3 separate regions of the Homo sapiens genome follow, and regions 2 and 3 are each linked to region 1. Evidence: fine-mapped expression QTL. A gene starts in region 1. Each other region holds a variant in brackets. All regions are shown on one strand. Distances are from middle to middle.

Region 1 (2,759 bases):
AGCAGGCTTTAGCCTAAAAGTAATCATCAGTATTTTGTTTTTCCTAAATCAATCACTGGTGCTAGAATTATTAAAAGAAAGCATGGCCTGTGGCAGTCTAGTCCATGCTGTACTTATTCATCTGTTAAGAGTGGTACTAGGCTTCCAGAGTTGTCATCTATTAGTAGACAGAAGACCACGACACACTCAACGAACAGCTTGATGCCAAGGTGTTCTAACGCTCCATCACTGCACGCTCCATCACAAAAATGCGCCCTTTTGGACATCTGATTTCTCCTTGAAATGTCAGCTGTCTCAAACCAATAGATATGTCCACTACCTATTGGGGGAAAAAGTAAATGTAGTTCTCAAGTAGTGGTTCAAGTTACCCTAGGTTCAACCCTCAGCCTGATACCTTCCTATCATCAAGAGCTTATAATCAGAGACACTTAACCAAAAGCGTGGAGGGACGGAAAAAGAGCAAATCTTGCCACTGATTTCTTTCATAAAAAAGAAAGAGCGTCCCAGGCCTTCCTCCTCGCGCAGCCAGGCCGGCGCCCACTCCGCAGGCTGCGAGGCGAGGCCCCCAGCACCCGCACACCCCCGCCCCGGATTGGCCAGCCCCGCAGTCACTCAGTACCGACACGTCAGGGCAGCCGCTCCCTCCCTCCTCCCGCCCCCTTCTCCCCGCGCTTGGCAAGAAAAGCGGGCAACGTGGAGCGGGAACAAAGGACCCCGCGGCCCACGGCGATCGGGGACTCCGTGCCACCCTACTCCAGGCCCGGGGCTGGCTGCCCGCCCACACGAGCCGAGTCTCGAGAGCTCTTCCAGAAGAGAATCCCAAACCCCAGGCAAACCCGAGGCGAGGCGTCCGTTCCTGACAGCAAGAACGGGGAGTCCCGCGCCCTCCTTCCGGCGGGTCATCCCCGCCCGCGGCGCCCTAACCCAGGCCCCCCAAAACCCTTCGAACAAAAAACTCTTGTTCCTCCCAGCCTGCCTCACCCGCGCCAGTGTAGCAAAGGGGCTCCAGCCTCCGCGCTCTCCGAGGCGACCGGCGCCCGCTCTCGGCCGCCAACGCAACTTGGCAACCATGGCAGCGCTGGAGCGCGGGCCCAGCGCGGCGCGGGCTTCACGTCCCAGAGGGCGGCGGCGGCCGCTTGGGGCTGCCTCCCCTGATGAGGACACCGCTTCCGCGCCTCCCACCCTCTTCCCATCCGCCGGCGCCATCCCTTCTTCTCGGATTCTAGCCGCGCCGTCTCCCTCATCTGTCGTTCGTAGAACCAGCGCGTATTACCTGGTTCATCTCTGAAGAGATGGAAACATTCATTTCTAGAGCTTCGATGGGAAGCAGGAGGAAGCGGGCGGGAATCGGCCCAACGGAAAGCGCCAGAAGGCGGCGGAAGACGGGAGCGGTCAAGTAGAAGGACGAGGGGCCAGTCCGTGGAGACTGAAAGGAAGGGGGAGCGCCACCGAGAACTCGCGGGAACTCGCTCGCTCGCCGATACAGCCGCGCCGAAGCAGCAGGCGGAGAAACTGCGCCCAGCAGCTCTGAGCGACCGACCTCCACGCGCGACCGGGAGACACTGCCTCCGCCGCCGCCGACCGCTCGCGCCGCACCCCCTCGCACGTCACCACGTGCGCTGCCGCCGCCGACGCCTCCCAGCCCGCTTCCGTCTCGAATCCATCTGCAAATCACAGGCGAGCTCCATAAAGATCCCACTCTAAGCCCCGCCCCACCCGCGGCCCCGCCCACATCCCGCCCCGCCTTCCTCCCTGGTCTACTGGGGTTCCTTCCTTCTCGGTGTAACTAGGTCAGCGCAAGGTGATCCTGAGGAGATAGGCGGCGCTCGGGGGGCGCCCTCGTTCCTCTTATCGCGCCTTTGTCCCTCCCTCCGTTCCTTGCCCCGCACCCTCACTTTCGCCGCCCTGTGCGTTGCCTGTCCCGGAACTGGTTCCCTCAAGCCGCCCTCACCTGTTCTGACTTCCCCTCGAGGCACAATAGCCTGAGAGATCAGACGTGGGAGATTAGATTGCTCGGCGTCAGACCTACTTCTAGGCAACCCCCCCTAGACTGGAGCTGCTCGTCGTGGACATTAGGATCTAGTTGGGCATGAGCCCTTAACTTAAGGGTCGGGGGGGAAGTGGCGGGTGCGGAGAGGAGGCGTGGAGAGTGTGAGGAAGAAGAGAGGCACTCTGAGAAGAAGTCGAACAACTAACCCCTCATTTGGCCTGGTTTGGGTGAGAAGATTGAGTCACTTGGGGAAAAAAATATTGGAGAAGTCAGAGAAGGTGTAAATCAGTGGTGCCACAAACACCAGTTTACTTCCACTTTTCACCCCCCGGGTCTGTTTTGTCTGCGTGCAGCTCTCCTCGTGTCGGAGACGCTGAGTCAGTTCTCTACTGGTCTTGCCCTCTTCCGGAAAAAGAAAACACACCTGAGAAGTGGTAGTTCCTATCCTAACCTACTGGGGCCCTTTATACCAGGTGCCAAACTTCATTATCCACCCCACCACCTTGCCCGGGAGGGAGATCTGTGAAAGCGAAACGTGATTTAAGCTGGGATCTGGCAGCAACTTCGTGGACTCTGAAGGGCACGTGGGAAAGGAGTTTTGATTGAAGGTGAGGGATTTAGTGAGGTAAAATTATATCCAAATTAGAGTTTGGTAAAGGCTTCCAGGTTAATGTCCTGTTAACGCTTATCCTGATTTGTGGAGGACACTTAAGCTGTCTAGGCCTAACCTTGTGTTTGATCACTCACCTTAATTTGTAGACATTCTAGG
Region 2 (2,759 bases), 270 kb after region 1:
TGGGGTTTGAGCAGTGGAATAAATGGTGATAAAATGTGTTGATGAAAGAGAATCTGTTCCAAGATGGCTGAATAGAAACAGCTCCAGTCTGCAGCTCCCAGCGTGATCGATGCAGAGGATGGGTGATTTCTGCATTTCCAACTGAGGTACCTGGTTCATCTCATTGGGACTGGTTGGACAGTGAGTGGAGCCCACAGAGGGTGAGCCAAAGCAGAGTGGGGCATCGCCTCACCTGGGAAGCACAAGGGGTCAGGGGATTTTCCTTTCCTGGCGAAGGGAAGCCGTGACAGACTGTACCTGGAAAATCGGTATACTCTGGCTCAAATACTGTGCTTTTCCCACAGTCTTAGCAACGAGCAGACTAGGAGATTCTCTCCCATGCCAGACTTGGCAAGTCCCACACCCACAGAGTCTTGCTCACTGCTAGCACAGCAGTCTGAGATCAATCTACGAGGGTGCAGCCCTGCAAGGGGCGTCCACCATTGCTGAGGCTTGAGTAGGTAAACAAAGTGGCTGGGAAGCTTGAACTGGGTGGAACCCACCGCAGCTCAGCAAGGCCTACTGCCTCTATAGACTCCACCTCTGTGGGCAGGGCATAGCTGAATGAAAGGCAGCAGACAACTTCTGCAGACTTAAATGTCCCTGTCTGACAGCTCTGAAGAGAGCAGTGGTTCTCCCAGCATGGTTTGACCTCTGATAATGGACAGACTGCCTCCTCAAGTGGGTCCCTGACTCCCATGTAGCCTAACTGGGAGACACCTCTCAGTAGGAGCCAAAAGACACCTCATACAGGCAGGTGCCCCTCTGGGATGAAGCTTCCAGAGGAAGGATCAGGCAGCAATATTTGCTGTTCTGTAATATTGCTGTTCTGCAGCCTCTGCTGGTGATACCCAGGACAACAGGGTCTGGAGTGGACCTCCAGCAAACTCCAACAGACCTGCAGCTGAGGTTCCTGACTGTTAGAAGGAAAACTAACAAACAGAAAGGAATAGCATCAACACCAACAAAAAGGACATCCACACGAAAACCCCATCTGTAGGTCACCAACATCAAAGACCAAAGGTAGATAAAACCACAAAGATGGGTAAAAACCAGAGCAAAAAAGGTGAAAATTCTAAAAACCAGAGTACCTCTTCTCCTACAAAGGATTGCAGCTCCTCGCCAGCAAAGGAACAAAGCTGGATGGAGAATGACTTTGACGAGTTGACAGAAGTAGGCCTCCGAAGGTTGGTAATAACAAACTTCTCTGAGCTAAAGGAGCACGTTCTAACCCATTGAAGCTAAAAACCTTGAAAAATGGTTAGATGAATGGCTAACCAGAATAAATGTGTATAGAAGACCTTAAATGACCTGACGGAGTTGAAAACCATGGCACGAGAACTTCATGAGGCACACGCAAGCTTCAATAGCCAATTTGATCAAGTGAAAGAAAGGATATCAGTAATTGAAGATCAAATTAATGAAATAAAGCAAGAAGACAAGATTAGAGAAAAAAGAGTAAAAAAGAATGAACAAAGCCTCCAAGAAATATGGGACTATGAGAAAAGACCAAATCTACGTTTGATTG[G/A]TGTACCTGAAAGTGACGGGGAGAATGGAACCAAGTTGAAAAACACTCTTTAGGATATTATCCAGGAGAACTTCCCCAACCTAGCAAGGCAGGCCAACATTGAAATTCAGGAAATAGAGAGAGCACCACAAAGGGACTCCTCGAGAAGAGCAACCCCAAGACACATAATTGTCAGATTCACCAAGGTTGAAATGAAGGAAAAAATGTTAAGGGCAGTCAGAAAGAAAGGTTGGGTTACCCACACAGGGAAGCCCATCAGACTAATGGCGGATCTCTCAGCAGAAACCCTACATGGCAGAAGAGATTGGGAACCTATATTCAACATTCTTAAAGAAAAGAATTTTCAACCCAGAATTTCATATCCAGCCAAACTAAGCTTCATAAGTGAAGGAGAAATAAAATCCTTTACAGACAAGCAAATGTTGAGAGATTTTGTCACCACCAGGCCTGCCTTACAAGAGATCCTGAAGGAAGCACTAAACATGGAAAGCAACAACTGGTACCAACCACTGCAAAAACATACCAAATTGTAAAGACCATTGATGCTAGGAAGAAACTGCATCAATTATGGGCAAAATAACCAGCTAACATCATAATGACAGGATCAAATTCACACATAACAATATTAACCTTAAATGTAAATGGGCTAAATGCTCCAATTAAAAGACACAGACTGGCAAATTGGATAAAGAGTCAAGAACCATCAGTGTGCTGTATTCAGGAGACCCATCTCATGTGCAGAGACACACATAGGCTCAAAATAAAGGGATGGAGGAAGATCTCCCAAGCAAATGGAAGGCAAAAAAAAGCAGGGGTTGCAATCCTAGTATCTGATAAAACAGACTTTAATCCAACAAAGATCAAAAGAAACAAAGAAGGCCATTACATAATGGTAAAGGGATCAAGTCAACGAGAAGAGCTAACTATCCTAAATATATATGCAACCAATACACGAGCACCCAGATTCATAAAACAAGTCTTTAGAGACCTACAAAGAGACTTAGACTCCCGCACAATAATAATGGGACACTTTAACATCCCACTGTCAGTATTAGATCAATGAGAGAGTTAACAAGGATATCCAGGACTTGAACTCAGCTCTGCACCAAGTGGACCTAATAGACATCTAGAGAACACTCCACCCCAAATCAACAAAATATACATTCTTATCAGCACCACATCGCACTTATTC
Region 3 (2,759 bases), 250 kb after region 1:
ACCCCCCTCCTCCACCCCCCATGCTCTGAGCAGCTTGGCCTATGTTTTCCCTTTATCTCTCTCTTTGTTTTCTTTCTTTTGGCCCACCCTCCCTCCTCCCCTCTCTTCTTTCCTTCCTTCCTTCTTATGCCTGCCTTTCCCCTGCCATAATTCATACCTAACCTCACAGGCTCTTTCAGAGCTGTTAAGTAAAATTCTATAAGTAAAAACGCTCTGTATAATTTTTTTTCACCTGCTGCTCAACCTACCTGGTGACCCAGAGCTCCAATTTCTCATAAGAATTGCCACTACCTCTCTTGATTAAATTTTCAGGTTCATATTTTTGCACAATTGTTTTTTATAAACATGCATGAACACAAATAGGATTATTTATGTGATTTATTTCAGTCAAATTACTCTGATTCCAACCAATCTGAAGACATCTCCAACTTAACCATGGTTTTGGACATGATGCGGTGGGGGGGACAGTAAACCATGTTTTTTATTATATCCTGTCTTTGACAGATATTAGGAGACTAGACCAGTATGGAGTGAGATGACATTGTTAGTGATTTTTTCTTGGGATGCTTATCACATTGTACAGAATCTCATGTTGATCTTTCTAATTTTTTTTGTAATCCATGCAAGCTGTATATTTCCTTGTAAAAAATTGATATTTGGGAAAATATTTTTACCCTGAGAAGTTCCCAGAAATAGAGATTTTCTGAATCTTATGAGCTATGAGACATTTAACCAAAGAAAATTTTCAAAAACTATTTTAAATGGAAGCTCCATATATATTGTGCTTAATTTTGTCAAGAGACATAGTCTTAGGAGCACTTTTGACAAAATATCTGCTGTTCTGTTGATAACCTTGAAGCTGACCTCTTTCCCATTAAAGAATTAACATTTGGAATTTTTATATGAATGAATAAAACTGCAATGTCACCTTCCATTTAAGCAATATTTTTCACTTCTTTGGCATTTCTAGCCAGTCTTTTTTTTTAATTTGTGTCCTTGAGGTAGTCATTCATTTTGGATCTTAAATATCAAGCTTTCAGCATTTGTCCTTTTAGAGACTGTGTCATGAGGCTGAACTCTAATACTTGAAAATGATTAGAGTTTGCCACTTTACAACCGTTCTGATAGTTCATCACCTGCTTGGATTTCAGCTTACTCTGTAAATTCAGGTACTTAATACCTGACTCTGAATAAAAATATTTTGAAGTGTTTTAGCAACCAAACAAACCATGCAATGAGAAAGAGGTGCAGA[C/T]GACTCGCTTGTGGTTATGGTTGTCAAGGAAACCATTTCCGTATATAGTGTTTGATAACAGCCATGTTTTTTTAAAGGCCATAAAAACAAAGCTTGTCCAGAAGTATGAAGAAGAAAGCATACAATGAAATAAGCCACAGCCAACTAGAAGTTATGAGAATGCATTAGATGCAAAATGCTAGATATCAATTGATGAGATGTTTTACAACATAGAAATTAAACTCAAGAGGGATAACATGTTGAAAAGTGTGGCAGAATGGGGGTGGCAGCAAAATGCCCTTGTTGAGGCAAGGTCAAAGTCTCACTATGTTCTCAAAATATACTGTGTGCATTTTTAGAGAAATTGTTTAATTAAACAAACAGCTTCATCTTTGCCATACACAAACTCGTGGAATGGAATTTAAACAGCTTTGATAACATAATCAGTGAGAGGCTTGAATATATTGCCCAGCAATAGACTAGATTGCTAGAGCTACACAAGCTGCAGGAAATGGAGAGCTTATTTGGGGGTTTTGTCTAGTTTATGCTACGTTTTGCTTTAAAAGAGAAATGAACTGTAGTGCATAGTGATGCTGAAGATCTTTATGGAGGAAAAAAGATCCTAAGATGTTGATTATGGATAAAGTCTATTTTGAAAGCTCTTTCTCAAGGTCTATACATATAGAGCAAAACCCCAAGGAGGAAAAGATGGCTGGGTATGGTGACTTATGCCTGTAATCCCATCACTTGGGGAGGCTGAGGCAGCAGATCACTTGAGGTCAGGATCTCAAGACCAGCCTGGACAACATGTGAAACCCTGTCTCTATTAAAAAAAAAAATAGCTGGGCATGATGGTGCATGCCTATAATCCTAGCTACTCAGGAGGCTGAGGCAGGAGAATCACTTGAACCTAGGAGGCGGAGTTTTCAGTGAGCCGAGACCGTGCCATTGCACTCCAGCACTCCAGCCTGGGCAACAGAGTGAGACTCTGCCTCAAAAAAAAAAAAAAAAAAGAAAGAAAGAAAAGAAAAGAAAAAAGAAGAAAAAATGATGTTGGTTTGACATTACAGATTTTTATTCTAAAATATGGTTTCCCATTCATAAAATGTGAAACATAAAGTATGAAAGATGTGGCAAAAGTGGAACTGTAAGGTGCATGATTCTATAGAGAAAAGGGGTAAATTGAGCCTAGTCTGAAACTATCCAACCTACAAAAAAAGAACATGTGGTTTAAAAGATACATGATTTGACATGTTGGAAGCCAGATGAAAGTCCAATGAAAAGACATAATTTCTGAATAGATTCTAATGTCTAAAAGAAATGATTTCATTCTTGCTCGAGCAATTTTTTCTTATTTCATAAACTATTAGGGTAATTATTTATGTAAGCAGAAAAATTGATTTTGTACTTCTCCCTTCCTTTTTCTTTAATATGTACACATAACTGCAGCATATGACATAGTAAAATTTTCACATTTGTTTCTTTACAATTTACCACAAAGGAAATGTCGTTTGGGCAACTTATGATG

The links.
Region 2: its variant is fine-mapped to the expression of IVNS1ABP in whole blood (INTERVAL, PIP above 0.99).
Region 3: its variant is fine-mapped to the expression of IVNS1ABP in whole blood (TOPMed, PIP above 0.99).

The regions. Positions count from the first base shown.
Region 1 is chr1:185,315,680-185,318,438 of GRCh38, forward strand. It overlaps IVNS1ABP (influenza virus NS1A binding protein), which reads right to left and starts at 1,564. Exons shown (of 15, transcript NM_006469.5): 1 at 1,274-1,564. It overlaps CBSLR (CBS mRNA stabilizing lncRNA), which reads left to right and starts at 1,773. Exons shown (of 4, transcript XR_007066771.1): 1 at 1,773-2,598. RefSeq lists enhancers at 890-1,503, 2,153-2,252, 2,503-2,582 and silencers at 993-1,052, 1,513-1,822.
Region 2 is chr1:185,586,353-185,589,111 of GRCh38, forward strand. The region is part of intron 2 of LINC01350 (long intergenic non-protein coding RNA 1350); the gene reads right to left. The region is part of intron 1 of LOC107985239 (a long non-coding RNA gene); the gene reads left to right. Among named protein-coding and RNA genes, the nearest start is that of LINC01350, 41 kb to the right of the region's middle. RefSeq lists an enhancer at 1-338. The variant G/A (reference allele first, on the strand shown) is at 1,568.
Region 3 is chr1:185,565,925-185,568,683 of GRCh38, forward strand. All of the region lies in intron 2 of LINC01350 (long intergenic non-protein coding RNA 1350), which reads right to left. The region is part of intron 1 of LOC107985239 (a long non-coding RNA gene); the gene reads left to right. Among named protein-coding and RNA genes, the nearest start is that of LINC01350, 61 kb to the right of the region's middle. The variant C/T (reference allele first, on the strand shown) is at 1,253.